Linked DNA regions of Homo sapiens: region 2 is linked to region 1. Evidence: fine-mapped expression QTL. A gene starts in region 1. The other region holds a variant in brackets. All regions are shown on one strand. Distances are from middle to middle. Region 1 holds the start of AMZ2 (archaelysin family metallopeptidase 2). Region 2 has its middle 3.8 kb from the start of TRR-CCG2-1.

Evidence for each region. PIP is the estimated chance that this variant, and not a neighbour inherited with it, causes the effect.
Region 2: its variant is fine-mapped to the expression of AMZ2 in lung (GTEx, PIP 0.93).

What each region holds. Positions count from the first base shown.
Region 1 is chr17:68,244,843-68,250,220 of GRCh38, reverse strand. It overlaps AMZ2 (archaelysin family metallopeptidase 2), which reads right to left and starts at 2,178. Exons shown (of 7, transcript NM_016627.5): 1 at 1,516-2,178; 2 at 1-33. The coding sequence starts at 33. RefSeq lists silencers at 693-742, 2,052-2,351 and enhancers at 2,566-3,111, 3,112-3,658.
Region 2 is chr17:68,021,113-68,026,490 of GRCh38, reverse strand. No RefSeq gene overlaps it. Among named protein-coding and RNA genes, the nearest start is that of TRR-CCG2-1, 3.8 kb to the right of the region's middle. The variant G/A (reference allele first, on the strand shown) is at 2,644.

The sequences.
Region 1 (5,378 bases):
TAGTGTCTGTTCGGAGTGCCGTATTATTTGCATCTAACAAAAAAAAGCAAGTAATCAAATATAAAAATACATATCTACATTGGGGACTTTACCTATCCTCTATATTTCAGCTCTGATTTCTCCCTAGAGTGAAATGACTGATTGCTAATGCTTTAGAGTGGTCACACTTAGAGTGGTTTCCTCATGTCCAATTTCTTGGAGATCTAAGAAATTAAAAAGACAATCATGAAATCCATTCCTCCATCTCATATGGAACCTGCTCCCATTACAAAAACTAGTGGTGGCCAGGTGTGGTGGCTCATGCCTGTAATTTCAGCACTTTGGGATAGGAGGATTGCTTGAGGCCAGGAGTTTGAGAACAGCTCAGGCAACATGGTGAGACCCTGTCTCTACAAAAAATTTAAAAATTCCCTGGGCATAGTTGTGCACATCTGTGGTCCTAGCTACCAGGGAGGCTGAGACAGGAGAATCACTTGAGCCCAGGAGCTTGAGGCTGCAGTGAGCCATGACTGTGCCACTGCACTCCAGCCTGGGCAAGAGTCCAAAACAAAAAAAAAAAACCTCACGGTGACCACAGGAGCAGGACCTCACACCCAACTTCCTTCTTTTGGGGAATAATATTGGCCTGGCACAGTGGCTCACGCTTATAATCCCAGCACTTTGGGAGGCCAAGGCAGAAGGATTACTTGAGCCTAGGAGTCTGAAATCAGCTTCGACATCATGGCAAAACCCCATATCTACAAAAAAATTAGCCGGATGTGGTGATGTGCACTTGTAGTCCCAGCTACTTGGCAGGCTAAGATGGGAGGATCATCTGAGCCCAGGAGGTCGAGGCTGCAGTGGGCCGTGATCGTGCCACTGCAGTCCAGCCTGGGCAATAGAGACTCTGTCTCAAAAAATAATAATATGAATTAACTCATCAGTGCCACATGAAAAATACTCATCGTTTCTAATGTGACTCAAAGATCTTCAACATCAAATAAAAACAAAACTAATGTAAGCCCTATCATTTCTGCAATTTAACTGCAGGCTGAGAAACTACAGCTTAGCCACTGAAGTTTATGGCCTCAAAGTCATGTCACATTAGGGAAGACATCAGATGACTAATCAAAAGCCAGCCTCACAATGACAGGTTTCTTCCATTCACATCGTGTTCCTATATAGAGCTTTCATCCTTCCTCTTGAATGGGTCCGATGTTCCACCACGAGGCTTTTTGAATTAAGGAAAAAGTTGAACATCTCTGTCTGGATCATCTTTGTCATATTTTCTAATTATTTAGATTTTGCCAGTTTAATGATAGACGATTGATGGGAAAACTTAAGCTAATGTCTGTTCTGATTGAACCTATAAATTCTGGGGTTGAAGAGGCTGACTAAAATTCCAGACCAAATGTCTCTGTACTCAAAGCTCTGATATAAGCATAGGCTCATCCTCACTCCTACACAACTGGGCTGAAATCTGACTTCTACAGGACAAAATATAAAACAAGATGTACCTTCCTGTAGTCTACCTACCTTGATTAGGAAGGAAGGCTCCCATGGAAGCTTTTAACTTACAAGGACGGACATGTCTGGGCCTGGCTGGAAGAAAGTTGTGGAGTGTGACTTCATCTTAATATTAAAAAGGCAGTGTGAAAGGTCAGGAGGCCTCCTCTTGCCTCCCAAGCCTAATCTAGGGAAGCTGCGGGAGAAGATGGGCAGGGGGCGCAGAATTCGGTCACTGCAGTGGGCTGGAGGCCTAGGATGCTTTGGTCCCAAAACCAGAACATCACGGGCAAACGGGAAGGAGCTGGCCACCCTGGCTGGTTGCCTATAGCAACTCGCACTGTGGGCTCTGGTCCATGCAGACACAACCCAGTCTCCAGCTGGGAGTGGAGTGGGGGTTCCCCAGGGACTCTCGCTTCGCCTCTTCTTCCCCAGGAGCCTCGGGAAAGGCCTCCCTGGCTCCCTAGAGGCACCGACCCCGCGGACCCCGCGGCTTCCGCCACGTCCGCCCCTCCTACATCCTCATCCCGCTCCACCGACCGCGACCGGCCCCCGCCTCTACGACCCGGCTACCCTGCCTAGGGGCCCCGGCCCAGCTCTGACAGCACCCGCGAACCGCCCTGACCCGACAGGCCTCGATACCACCCACCCGCGGCAGCCCTCACGCGCATGCGCACCGCGTCCCTTCGCACTGCGCCACGCCACGCCCACTGGCGCCACGCCCCTTACGCCACGCGCCGCGCCGCTGCGTCGCGCACGCCCTGTGGGCCCCGCCCAACTCACGACCCACCCATGCCACGCCCCTGAGCGTGCGGCCGCCTGGGCAGGCGCAGAGCTGGAGTTCAGCGGCCGCGACCCGCCTCTTCCAGAATAGAGGGTAGCGAGGGGACTACAAGCCCCAGCTGTCCACCCCCGCAGTCGCCGATTCCTCGCTTGCGCTCGCGGCGGCTCCGCGGCCCGGTTCTCGAGAGCCACAGATGCGCCCGCGTCGCTGGGGTCTCCCGTGTGGGAACGTCCTCGGCAGGCCGCGGGTTTGAGAGGCATCGCCGGCGTGACGAATGCAACCAGCGTGGCCCCAAATGAGTCGGCGGCCGCCGCAGGTTGACGTAGAGCCGCAGCGCTCCCCGGGGCCGTCACCCTCAGCACTTTCCCTTCTTTATTTGTTGGGGGCCGCGGGGGCTGGAACCCAGAAGCGCAAGTGTGGGGCGCGTCCTCGTGGCGTCCCTGGCGCTCCGAGGCCGAAACCCGGATGCTGAGGGGAGGCCGTGAGCTCGGAAAGGCACCGCGGGGCCGGCATTAGGGCTGAGCTAGCTCTGTACCCTCTGGTGGGACTTTCGGTCTCTCTGGGCCTCGCCATTCTCTTTCTTTTTCTTGCTTTTTTTTTTTTTTTTTTTTTTTTGGAGACGGAGTCTTGCTCTGTTGCCCAGGCTGGAGTGCAGTGGGACAGTCTGGGCTCAGTGCAACCTTTGCCTCCTGGGTTCAAGCGATTTTCCCGCCTCAGCCTCCCCAGTAGCTGGAACTACAGGTGCCCGCTATCACGTCCGGCTAATTTTTGTTATTTTTAGTAGAGATGGGGTTTCACCATGTTGGCCAGGCTGGTCTCGAACTCCTGACCTCAAGTGATCCGCCCGCCTTGGCCTCCCAAAGTGCTGGGATTACAGGCGTGGGCCACCGCGCCCGGCTTTTTTTTTTTTAATACGGGTTTTCACCCTGTTACCCAGGCTGGTCTCGAACTCCTGCGCTCAGGTGATCCACCCCCCCGCACCCCGGTCTCCCACAGTGCTGGAATTACAGGCGTGAGCCACGGCGCCCGGCCTGTTATTTTGAAGTCAAGCTATTTTACCATCCTCTGGATTTTCGTCATCCTAATTCTCCTTCCCAGTCTCAAGGAAAGACAGGCACATTTTCTTGATGACTTCAGCATTTGTAACCCCTTGTTGGCTCTCCTTAGAGGACATTAACTCTGAACCTTTCAACTTCGAGGATCTCTTTAGCCCTTCCTTATTTGTTCACTCTCCTGGATCATGAATTCTCCAAATTTGTCCTTTGAACCCAGTGCCCATATCCACCCTCACCTGAACCCATTCTTGAATAAAATGCATTCCTACCATGACTGTTCTCAAAGTTTGAAGTTGAGAATACCGATGCGCCACTCCTGCTTCAATGCTTGAGAAGTCGTGGGCTTTCTTCCATGTGCCTTTTGACTGGGCGCCTATCTCCCGACAGCCTGAGGTGGTGTAGCATAGGGGCGAAGGTGGTCTGTGCTTGAATCCCAAAACCCTCACTAGCGTGGGACCTGTGTCAACTACTTGACCTCTTTTGTAAAACGGAGACAATTACAGCACATCTTTTTTTATTATTATTACTTGACACGAAGTCTCGCTCTGTCATCCAGACTGGAGTGCAGTGGTGCGATCTCGGCTCACTGCAACTTATGCTTCCTGGGTTCAAGCGATTCTCGTGCCTCAGTCTACAGAGTAGCTGGGACTACAGGCACACACCACCACGCCCGGCTAATTTTTTTTTTTTTTTTTTTTTTTGTATTTTTAGTAGAGACAGGGTTTCGTCATGTTAGCCAATTTTTGTATTTTTAGTAGAGACGGGGTTTCACCATGTTGGCCAGGCTGGTCTTGAACTCCTGACCTCAGGTGATCCACCTACTTCGGCCTCCCAAAGTGCAGGGATTACAGGCGTGAGCCACCGCGCCCCACCTACAGCACATCTTAACAGAATTTTAGGGATCAAATGAGTTCCTTTGGATACTGTGCCTGTTTTTGACTGAACAGCTGTCTTCTGACATCCTGAGTGGCTTCTTTAGCTTAGTTGTCACCTCTTCTATAGCCTCATCCTGCCTCATGACAAAACTTTACTTCTGCCTGTTCATTGCCTTGTGTGTACATAATAATACTGCAGTTGTCCTTGTCACAATGATTGTAACCTATTTCTTACATGTCACCCTTACTCAACTGCGAGATGCTTGAGGGTAAAGACTCTCTATACGAGGTGTCTGAAGCATAAAAGGTATTCACTAGATTTTCAGTCAGTTTTTTGGTATTCATTAAAAAGAACTTCATTTTGCGTTTAAACTGTTTAAATTTCTAAATCATGAACTTTGTACTTGCTCACAAATTTTAGGATAGCATTATTTCTGCATGGTCTAATATTTATTTTCTTAAATAACTGACCAGGCATGGTGTCTCATGCCTATGATCCCAGCACTTTGGGAGGCTGAGACAGGAGAAAGGAGAATCACTTGAGCCTAGGACTTCCAGACCAGCCTGGTCAACATAGGGAGACCCCATCTCTAAAAAAAAAGAAAAAAGAAAAAAAAAAAGCCAGGTGTAGTGACACATGCCTGTAGTCTCAGCTACTTGGGAGGCAGAGGTGGGAGGATGGGTTGAGCCTAGGAGATCGAGGCTGCAGTCAGCTGTGATTCACAGCACTTCAGCCTGGGCAACAGAGTGAGACCCTGTTCAAAAAAATAAACAAATAAACACCTTAGTGCTTCGGGGGGGTTAGGTTTTTTTTTTTTTTTACATTAGAAGGAAAAGACACTTTCTCTTACTAAGGTATTTTTGCCTGTTAACTAATATGCAGTTGCAGAATGAACCATAGTCTGTCTGCATTTCAAAGAGCACTACAAGTTCTGATATTTAAAATGAGTGTATATGCCAGTGGCCCAAGGTTGGAGAAGAAAGTTGGTAACAAATTGGAAGGTGGCAGAAAGCAGGAAAGAAATGTAACATATATGGCAGATGAAGGGTTTTAAAATAGCTTTTACAAATCAGCACAGAAAAGATAAACACCATGACATAAAAATGAGCAAAAAATATGAACCATATAACCCGAATGGTCCATTAACATCCATGTGTTCAACTTTACTGAACACATGA
Region 2 (5,378 bases), 220 kb after region 1:
CGCGGTGGCTCATGTCTGTAATCCCAGCACTTTGGGAGGCCGAGGTGGGCGGATCATGAGATCAGGAGTTTGAGACCAGGCTGGTCAACATGGTGGCCCCATTTCTACTAAAGATACAAAAATTTAGCTGGGCGTAGTGGCACGCGACTGTAATCCCAGCTACTCGGGAGGCTGGGGGAGGAGAATCGCTTGAACCTGGAAGGCGCAGGTTGCACTGAGCCGAGATCATGCCACTGTACGCCAGCCTGGGCGACAGGGCAAGACTCCGTCTCAAAAAAAAAAGAAAGTGAATGGATGGTGGTGCTGGCAGCAGAGTGACACATTGGAAAGTAAATATGGCCCAATCCAGATAAAATGTCTCTTCCTCCTGATCTATTATGGAAAGGGTCCAATGTTATTGTCATGATCACCAGGTAATTGAATGGTCCCTTCAGGGTGTGAAGCCAACATCAGGGCTGGTTGGGCCCCCGGCAGAAATAGTAGCCAGACCAGACTCAGTAGTAGGAAGTGAATGATACTGAGCGTATGCATAGCCTCTGTCTCTGCTGCCTTGGCCATGTGGTTCATGATCCCATTAAGCAAGCACTAGCCTGGCAGGGGAAGGAGGATGATGGACATCTACAGAGCAGGCCATCATGGCCACCTGAATATTAATAGCCTATTCCACAGTGGAGGCCTTTGGGTGAACATCCATATAACTCAAATCCACACCTTCTAAGTTCATTCCAAAAGATCCATACATCTACCCCTTCTCCAAACCACCTTTGTTGTCAATCCTATCTTCCTCTCACAAATTCCTGAGTGTATTGTTTATGACTCTTTTGGTTGCAAGAGGCAGAAGACCCAATCCTAAGTTGGCTTATGAGTAAAGGAATTTGCCACCTCAAATAAGAAGGCTGGGTGCCGTGGCTCATGCATGTAATCCCTGCACTTTGGTAGGTTGAGGTAGGAGGATCACTTGAAGCCAGGGGTTTGTGTAACCAACAGAGGGAGACCCCCTTTTTCTACAAAAAAAAAAAAAAATTATCCAGGTGTGGTGGTGTGCACCTGTAGTATCAGGTACTTGGGATGCTGTGGCAGGACAATTGCTTGAACCCAGGAGTTTGGGGCTGCAGTGAGCTATGATTGAGCCACTGCACTCCAGCCTGGGTGACTGAGCAAGACCCTGTCTCTAAAAAAAATAATAATAATAACAAAAGTCCAGACCGGGCGTGGGGGTCGTGCCTGTCATCCCAGCGCTTTGGGAGGCCAAAGCCGGTGGATCACCTGAGGTCAGGAGTTCGAGACCAGCCTGGCCAACTCCAGTAGAGATGGCAAAACTCTGTCTCTACTAAAAATACAAAAATTAGCTAGCCATGATGTGATTCAGGAGAATCACTTGAACTTGGGAAGCAGAAGTTGCAGTGAGCTGAGATTGAGCCACTGCACTCCTGCCTGGGTAATAGAGCAAGACTGTCTCAAAAAAAAAAAAAAGAAAGAAAGAAAAGAAAAGAAGGCTGGGCATGGTGGCTCATGCCTAGAATCCCAGCAGTCTGGGAGGCTGAGGTGGGCAGATTGCTTGAGTCCAGGAGTTTGAGACCAGCCTGGGCAACATGGTGAAACCTGGTCTCTACAAAAAATATAAAAATTAGCCAGGCATGGTGGTGCACGCCTGTCATCCCAGCTACTTGGGAGGCTGAGGCGGAAGGATCATTTGAGCCTGGGAGTTGGAAGCTGCAGTAAGACGTGATTGCATCACTGCACTCCAGCCTGGGCAACAGAGTGAGAACCAGTCTCAAAAAAACAAGCAGATCGGGCATGGTGGCTCACACCTGTAATCCCAGCACTTTGGGAGGCCGAGGCAGATAGATCACTTGAGGTCAGGAGTTTGAGTTTGAGACCAGCCTGGCCAAAACAGTGAAACCCCGTCTCTACTGAAAATACAAAATATAGGCCGGGTGCGGTGGCTCACACCTGTAATCCCAGCACTTTGGGAGGCCGAGGTGGGTGGATCACCTGAGGTCAGGAGTTTGAGACCAGCCTGGCCAACGTGGAGAAACCCCATCTCTACTAAAAATACAAAAATTAGCCAGGTGTGGTGGCATGTGCCTGTAATCCCAGCTACTCCAGAGGTTGAGGCAGGAGAATTGCTTGAACCCAGGAGTGGAGGTTGCAGTGAGCCGAGCTCATAGCCACTGCACTCCAGCTTGGGTGACAGAGTGAGACTCCATCTCAAAAAAAAAAAAAAAAAAATTCAGCCAGGCATGGTGGCACACACCTATAGTCCCTGCTACTTGGGAGTCTGAGGCAGGAGACAGAATTGCTTGAACCCAGAAGGTGGAGGTTGCAGTGAGCTGAGATCGTGCCACTTAACTCCAGTCTGGACAACACAGCAAGACTCCATCTCAAAAACAAACTTACAAAGAAACAAACAAGCAAGCAAAAATTGAGCTATCAATCCATGAGAAAAACATGCAGAAACCTTAAATGCATATTGCCAAATGAAGGAAGCCAGTCTGAAAAGGCTACACATTGTATGATTCCAACTACAGTAAATGACATTCTAGAAAAGATAAAACTATGGAGACAAAAAAGATTAGTGGTTGGGGCCACGTGCAGTGGCTCACACCTGTAATACTAGTGCTTTGGGAGACTGAGGCGGGC[G/A]GATCACGAGGTCAGGAGTTCGAGACCAGCCTGGCCAATATGGTAAAACCCCGTCTCTACTAAAAAATACAAAAATTAGCCGGCCATGGTGGCTTGTGCCTGTAGTCCCAGCTACTTGGGAGGCTGAGGCAGGAGAATCGCTTGAACCCGGAAGGCGGAGGTTGCAGTGAGCCGAGATTGTGCCACTGCACTCTAGCAAGGGTGACAGAGCGAGACTCCATTTCAAAAAAAAAGATTAGTGGTTGGAAAGGGTTTCAGGGGAGGAAGGGGAGAATGAATAGGTGGAATAAGGCATTTTAAAGGCAGTGAAACTATTCTGTGTGATACTGTAATTGTGGATATATGACATTATACCTTTGTCAAAAACCATAGAATGCACAATACAAAGAGTGAACCCTGCAAGTATCAACTATGGACTTTACTAATAATGTATATTAAATATTATTATTAATATTAATTATTATATTGTTAATGAAGTTAATTATAATGTATCAGTATTAGTTTATCAATTGTAATGAATATACCATACTAATGCAAGCTGTTAATAACGGGAAATTGGTGAGGGAAAGTGAAGGAATATACAGGTACCCTCTGTACTTTCCACTCAATATTTCTGCAAACCTAAAACTGATAAAAAATAATAAAGTCAATTAATTAAGAAAATATGCTGCAATGTGAAAACTAGAGCATATCACCAAACTTTCTGCATTCTGTTACATTAAAATCCATTAGTCTGGCCGTGCGGTGGTGGCTCATTAGTCTGTACTCCACTTGGATGCATATTTTACCTTTACCCATGCAGGAATATCGAACATTATGCACTGGTCATTTGAAACACGTTACACTAAGAGGTATGCAGATCTTCCAAGTGTTGACACATTGAATTGTACAACATCAAAACATTGCACTCATTAAACAGAAATGTCTTTAAATATTTGAAAGCTATCAAGCTTACAGTGGTGGATACAAAGTTTCAAGCTTTTAAATGTTCCCTTGACGGTTTTTTTGTTTTTTTGTTTTTTGTTTTTTTGAGACGGAGTCTCGCTCTGTCGCCAGGCTGGAGTGCACTGGCGCCATCTAGGCTCATTACAACCCCCGCCTCCCAGGTTCAAGCGGTTCTCCTGCCTCAGCCTCCCGAATAGCTGAGACTACAGGCGCGTGCCACCACGCCCAGCTAATTTTCGTGTTTTTAGTAGAGATGGGGTTTCAACATGTTGGCCAGGATGGTCTTGATCTCTTGACTTCGTGATCTGCCCTCCTCGGCCTCCCAAAGTGCTGGGATTACAGGCCTGAGCCACCGCACCCGGCCTTCCCTTGAAAATGTAGGTTATTTCATTAGCCACAAACAGTGCATATTGTTTTCCTTGAAGCGACATGCTCACTTTGTTCATTTTCTAAAAAATATCTGCAAAATGCCCAACTCTGAATAATCTAGTTTGTCGGTCAGTTGTTCCTTCAATGAAAATTCGGTACGACTGAAAAGCAGCTAGTTCGGAGTGCAACTCCAACATCCCACAAGTGCTTTACTCAAGCAAAAACCATTGTATTTTGGTATGCGTAGAGGTGATTTATTCATACTTCCCATTGTCAAAGAAAATATTAAAAAGCTGTGCACTCAAGCGTTGAAACTTAATACACTTAATTATTCTTACAGCGTCACCAAGGATATGCTTCAGTAAACCTGGCTTTTTCCCTCTGCCAGTGCACGAAGGTAAAGAATATGACTCTTATTAGTTTAGTTCAAATGCCTTAAATTTGCTATTTCACCCGCTATTGCTTCTGCACCATCGGTGCAAATGTCAACGCAATAAATAACCTGTTTTCATGAAAAGCATTTCCTGAATGCCTCAGAGTTCACAGGCCAAGGATAACAAGGATAACACATCACACGCAGACTAAATTAGAAAGATATGCACCAAAATGTTAATACATTTTGTAGGAGTGGTTAACTCCGACTTACAGAATTTCGATTTTCTTTTTTTTTCCCCCTAGACAGAGTCTTGCTCTATCGCCCAGAGTGGAGTGCAGTAGTGCAATCCCGCTTCGCTGCAACCTCTGCCTCCCAGGTTCAAGCGATTCTCCTGCCTCAGCCTCCCCAGTACCTGGGATTACAGGCACGCGCCACCACGGCCCACTAATTTTTGTATTCTTGGTAGAGACGGGGTTTCACCATGTTGGCCGGGCTGGTCTCGAACTCTTGACCTCATAATCCGCCCGCCTCGGCTTCCCAAAGTGCTGGGATTACAGGCGTGAGTCACCGCGCACGGTCCCTTTTTTTTTTTTTTTTTTTTTTGAAAGAGTCTTGCTCTATCACCCAGGCTGCAGTGCAATGGCGAGATCTCGGCTCACTGCAGCCTCCGCCTCCCCGGTTCAAGCGATTCTCCTGCCTCACCCTCCGAAGCAGCTGGGACTACAGGCGCTCGCCACCACGCCCCGGTAATTTTTGCATTTTTAGTAGAGATTAGGGTTCACCTTTTTGGCCAGGCTGGTCTCGAACTTCTGACCTAAAGGGAACCGCCCGTTTGGGCATCTCAAAATGCTGGGATTACAGGCGTGAGCCACCGAGCCCGGCCCAATTTCGATTTTCTTTACCTGGCTTATCTTTTTTTTTTTTTTTTTTTTTGAGACCGTCTTGCTCTGTCGCCCAGGCTGGAGTGCAGTGGCACAATCTCGGTTTACAGCAACCTCCGCCTCCCAGGTTCAAGCGATTCTCCTGCCTCAGTTTCCCTGGTAGC